2 separate regions of the Homo sapiens genome follow, and region 2 is linked to region 1. A link means that fine-mapping ties the variant in region 1 to the expression of a gene that starts in the linked region. Tissue or cell type: T cells. Region 1 holds a variant in brackets; the other region holds the start of a gene. All regions are shown on one strand. Distances are between the middles of the regions.

Region 1 (2,757 bases):
GTTTGCAGCCAGACTGCTACGCCACGCGGTCTGGCATTTAGTCCTCAGAAATCTGATTTAGAGAACGTATACATTGCATCACAATCTAGATTTCAGAGGAAAGTTTTGGATAGAATAACCCAGACCCAAGTCTGGGTAATTTAAAGCCTGGGTGAAATGGGGCAGAAAGAGCCCAGAATATACAGGTCTGAATCTTGGCTGGGGTGATGTGGAAGACTGGAGGCGCCAGACGGCTGGCCTCCCTCCAAGTGTTTACCATGCTGGTGCCATGGGGCTGGGGCTGGGCAGTCCATGTGCTCATTCTTCCCTTCTCTTCTCCTCCTCCTCCCCCTCCATCTCTCCTCCTCCTCCTCATGTTTTCTATAGGCTAGAGAAACTCAGGAACTACTGACCCACAGGGAAGGCAAGCGGAGATATGAGACGGAGGAATCAAACGCTGCCCTGGTGGAGGACGCTGTGGGTTTACAGTGGATGATTTCCTCTGCCTATGAGATAAAAGGGCTGGCTCTGTACTTTGAACCCCAGCCTCACCCACCTCTGCCTGGGTGTGGCTCTTACTCTCTGGAAGACTTACTCAGGGGAGAGGACAGGACAGTGTGAGGCTTGAATCTCCAGGAAATAGAGTCTGTGGGCAGCCATTGACTCCGAGTCAATGAGAACAAGGTGTGCTGTTTCCTCTGTGCTGTTTCTTCCCTGCCCCACTCCCCGCCCCTTTGTCCTATGGTGCCCAGGCTGCCTGCACTGCCCAGATACCACAGGCCTTGCCAGGGACCTCCTGAGAGGTTTCTGAGGCTTGCAGCCAGTGGTCCCGTTAGTCTGCACGTCTCCGAGTTGCCCTCCCAGAGGAGAAAGCATATGCTGCTGGGACCGACTGCAGCTCCTCATGGATGCACCTGCCACCAGAAAATTGTTGTTCAGTCTGGGATTGCTTTCTCTTCCCAAAGCACAATCTCACATGCAGTCATGAGCCCAGTCCAGCCTCTGGGACAGAAGATTTCGTGCTTTTATAAACCAACAGCACTGCAGGTGCTGCACAAGGTAAGTGTCTCCCTTATTTCTTTCCCTCCCCGGAAGCCTCTGTATCAAACTAGGAGTTACCTTAATAGGGT[C/A]AAAGGAGGGTGTGGCTGTTTCACTTCCTGTTGTCAGCAGCCAAGTGTGCCTGAGGACAGAGGGTGGTGGGCAGGCATCCATTATGTGTAGGGAGGCAGGTATTGTACTGCTCTGGAACACACTGAGGAAGGGGGGTGCTCTGGCTTCCCTGACACCACCTCCCTGGTCAGGCTGCCGCAAGGCACCCAGATGTCAGTTGTCTTCCCACAACCTAATCATTCACAGCTGCTCCAGGGCCACACTTAGGATCTCTTTCCAGCGGTCCTCTTAGTCTGCCCCAGGGGCATGGCAAAGGAGGGCCTTTCATCCAGGGATCTCACACTCACAGAGACTTCACATTTGGATTTTTAAAAATTTATCTCTGAAGATATGCTAATAAGACTGAAAAGATGGAAATGATCATCAGCTTTAAACTTATGCCTGATTTTGGTACCAGGCCCATGAATTTTTAAGATTAATCCTGCCATTATCCCGTGAATAGGATGGTTATATTACCCTGTGCGTTTTTTTTTTAAAGCTTACACGTGTTAAAGCCTTAATTTATTAAATGTAAACTTCTAAAATATAGTATATCACAATTTTTGAAACCCTATTTGGGGATTTCTTCATTTTAATATACCTGAAGCCTCAGATAATGGGCGTGTCCCTGGTCTTTGTCCTCCAAGCGGCCCATTGGCCACTCCCCTCTTGATGGACTGTGGAGAGAAGCTGTTCCCTTTCCACGTGGTCATTTCAACTTCAGAAAAATCTCAGGTGCAATTGCCTGTTTCATTACAGCAGCTAGCCTATAATGAAAGAGGCCTTCGAAGCTTAGGCATGCCCAGTTTGGCCCCTTTCTTCATTTTACACACTGTTTTCTCCTCCCACAGGAAGGCTTCTCTCTACGGGGCTCAAAGCTACAGGCTCTCCACCATAGGGAAAATGGCCGACTAATATTCTTGAGTTCTTTACCCTTAGGCAATGGGGCTCAACTGTGACTGCACATTGGAATCAGTGGAGAGTTTTCCAAACATCCATCCGATGCCTGGGTTCTACCCCCACAGAACCTGATTTACTTGACCTGGGGTGTGGCCTGGGCATTGGAATTTTTTAAAGCACCCCACATGATTTTAATACACTACAAAGTTTCAGAAACAGTGCCCTAAGACCCTGGTTCTCAAACATTAGAATTCATCAGAATAATGTCCTCGTGGGGAGGGTCTTGTTAAAGCATAGATTGCTGGGCACAGTTTCTGATTCAGAGTTTCTGGATGGTACCTGGTAATCTGCATTTCTAATGAGTTCCCAGGTGATGCGATGCTGCTGTTCTGGGGATCATGTATTTACAACAGTTGTGCTAAAAGAAAGACAGTTAGAGTGGTGGGTTGGGAGGAGAAATGTGAGTGAATGCATGAAAATGTAGTTATTTCTTATTCTCAACCTCTGCAGTTGGCTTCAGAGTCAGGGACACCCCTAAATTACAGCAGTTACAGAGTATATTGGTCACCAAAGCTGCCACTGTGCAGAGACCCAAGCTAGGATAGAGCTGAGCCCCAGCAGCTGGACCCTGGTTGGTGGGGTAAGGCATGGTCTGAAACAGTCTGGGGCTACAGATCAGCTCTGTCCAGTGAGAATATAATACAGGGCACAAGGGTGAGTCACTTATGT
Region 2 (2,757 bases), 130 kb after region 1:
TGGGCCACCCTGAGACCCGCCCCACGGGGCTTCTCGATCCACGTCTTGGCTTCTCGCTCCACTTTCACAGAACGTACTGAATCAGGGGCCTGCATCCCCGTGCCGTGCCGAGCCGACGGAGAAATGGACTCCTCTTCTCGCTCCTGTGGAGTTTCGTCTTCTGGGTGAGTGTGGCACCGGGTCCTGGGCGGGTGATGTCTGTAGTTGGCGAGCGATCCTCAGCCAGAAAACTGGCTGCGCACACAGGCGCAGACACGCGAACATGTTCCTGCGAACGAGCTTGGGCGCATGTTTTCCTCCCTTGCTTTCTTTAATGCTCAGAGACCATAAGGGGATTTATCGAGAAGCATTCGGTGCCCATGCCCGGTTTGGAACCGCGAGCACAATATCTGGTTCCTTTGCAGTACGGTGGTTTGCTCTTGAGTTACGACCAGAAACCGGAACAGAAGGAAAGGGAGAAGCAGGGGAGGTTCGGGGACGACGGCGCTCCGGGCAGTAAGGCAGTAGCTTCCAAAGCGTGGAGGATGGGACTGAGGAGGAGCAGAATACGGAGAAAGAGGGAAGCTGAGGAAAAATACTCACGCCAATGGGTAAAAGGGAAAAGGTGAGAAGGAATGGAGTAGGGGAGGGAACCAATGGTGGGAGAGGCGGAGGAAGAAGGGGGAGGGGTAGAAGCCAATGGGGGAGTGGAGGGGAGGGAGAAGCAGAGGGGAGGAGGGAGCGGGGACGCGAGCGAGGACGCGGCCCCGCGCGCTCGTCCCCCTCCCTCCGACTGGATAGCTCGCGCCTTCCCAGGCTCCCGGGAGACGAGGGCAGGGGCGGGGCCGTGCCGGGTGCGCGGCGCGGGAGGCGTCGCGAGGTGAAGGGGCGGGGACGGGGGATTGTGGGGAGGGCAGCGCGGGTTCGCGCGCGCGCGCGCGTCCCGTCCAGGCTGCGCCGCCGCGCCGCCGCTCCGCCCCCGGTCGGGTGTGTGGCTGCGCGCGCCGGGAGAGATGCTGAGGTAAAGTTCGGGAGAGAGGGAGAGAAATCCGTCAGCGCGAGGGAGCCCGAGTGGCCGCCATTACTGAGCCCGGCGCGGCGGCGGGCGCTGGGGAAGGGGGGAGGGACGGGCCGCCGCTGGTGGCGGGGAGGGAGGGAGGGAGGGTGGGTGAGCTGGCTGCGGGAGCCGTGGGGCTCAGGGTTTCGGGGCGTGTGTGTCGGGGAGGGCGGGGGGAGGTGGCTGAAGGGACGCGCCGCTCGGTGAGCGCGCCGAGGAAGAGAGGCGAGCGGAGAGTGGAGGAGGAGGCGGCGGCGGCGGGAGCGGTCCCCAGGAATGTCGCTGCCGCCGCCACCGCCGGGGCCGCTGCCGTTGAGGAGGAGACGGAGGAGACCGACGTTGTTAGGTAGGACCTTGCGGACCCCGCTCCTCCAAGCCTGCCTGCCCCCTCCCGGACGGGGACCCTCCTGCGGCTAGCTGCCCCGCTCGGTCGCCGCTGCCGGTTGTAACCAGTTGAAGGGGCTGGGGCCCCGCGGCCGCCGAGGGGAGCCTGGCGCTGCGCTCGGTTTTCGCAGGCCGGGCGGGCAGCAGCTGCAGCGTTAGGGATACGTTCGGCGTGAAGGGCAGAGAGGCCGGGGGAGGGGGTGCTTTCTCCACAGGTGACGGGGCCAGGGTCGGCGGAGGCCTGATGCTGGCCGGGGATCGCCGGCCCCGCCAGGCGTCCGCTCTCGCCCGCCGCCTCACTTGCTCGAGTCTCGGGTGGTCCGTCGAGAGGGGAGGTGGCGGTGTCCGTTGGCCGGGTTGCTGCTGTTAACGAGTTCCACCTGGAAAGGGTACACGGGGCGGGTGCAGATTCGCGGAAACACAGTCTCGGTTGCAAACTTAAACGCCTTGTAGGGGGGATCGGCCCTTTCACTTTCCCTCATCTCCTCGACTCCTCCCTGGGTTCTCTTCACCAATTTTCCATCTGCTTTGAAGCTTGGAGTAAGATATGAGAAGTTGCACTGCGCATCCAGAGCCCAGAGTCCTATGGGCTGACTGCGACTGGGTTGAGGCTTTGATACTGAGTTTTCGCTAGAATAACCTCCAGATTCTTCCTCTCTTTCCACTAAAGAAAAGTATCGGGGTGGGGGTGGGGAGCCGCGCGGGAGCGCGCGCGCACTTATCCACACAGAAATACTCCCTCTCACCCTCCCTCTTCAGCGTTATTAGAAATGCAAGAGAGCTGGAGGCTCGGGGTGTAGCTGAGGTTGAAAGGTGCACGGAAGTAAGGGCAAACTGTTATTAGGCCGTTTAGTAAAATCCCGAAAAAGTTGTAGGGGAGACGCTTATACTTCTACCATGTGATAGAAATTCGGATTTGGCCATCGCTTAATAAATGGGAATTCAAATATTTTGAGATAGAGCAAGATAGGCATATAGATGGGTTTGTGCTTACGTTTTAAGTTTAAATTCTTATCGATCATTTATTTTTTCCTTTGTGATAGGCAGGAAACTGAATTTTTTTTTAAATGTTCAGGTGTAAAACAGCAAAATGCTTCGCTGTATTTACTAGTACTTGCTTATGTTGCTTTCTACAGGTAGGGGCGGGGGGCGAGTTTGTCAATTCCACTTAAATCCAGAACCAGTATTCAGTTAGAATGTTAGGTGGTGTTTATCCGCATGAAGGATCTCGTTCACTTCATGGGAGCTTGCTCTACATTTCCACTTAAAATGGTTCTCCTAACAAAAATTTCATCTAGATGCAGCGATTAGACATTTGGAATAATGTTTGGTTTAAA

The links. PIP is the estimated chance that this variant, and not a neighbour inherited with it, causes the effect.
Region 2: ARHGAP5 starts here. The variant in region 1 is fine-mapped to the expression of ARHGAP5 in T cells (TOPMed, PIP above 0.99). The same link has a PIP of 0.9 or more in blood mononuclear cells and whole blood.

Annotation. Positions count from the first base shown.
Region 1 is chr14:31,944,071-31,946,827 of GRCh38, forward strand. It overlaps LINC02313 (long intergenic non-protein coding RNA 2313), which reads left to right and starts at 783. Exons shown (of 2, transcript NR_146544.1): 1 at 783-1,038. RefSeq lists an enhancer at 65-1,264. The variant C/A (reference allele first, on the strand shown) is at 1,110.
Region 2 is chr14:32,076,054-32,078,810 of GRCh38, forward strand. ARHGAP5 (Rho GTPase activating protein 5) reads left to right here and starts at 1,251. Exons shown (of 7, transcript NM_001030055.2): 1 at 1,251-1,382. ARHGAP5-AS1 (ARHGAP5 antisense RNA 1 (head to head)) reads right to left here and starts at 646. Exons shown (of 1, transcript NR_027263.1): 1 at 1-646. RefSeq lists silencers at 672-931, 1,292-1,511, 1,310-1,604.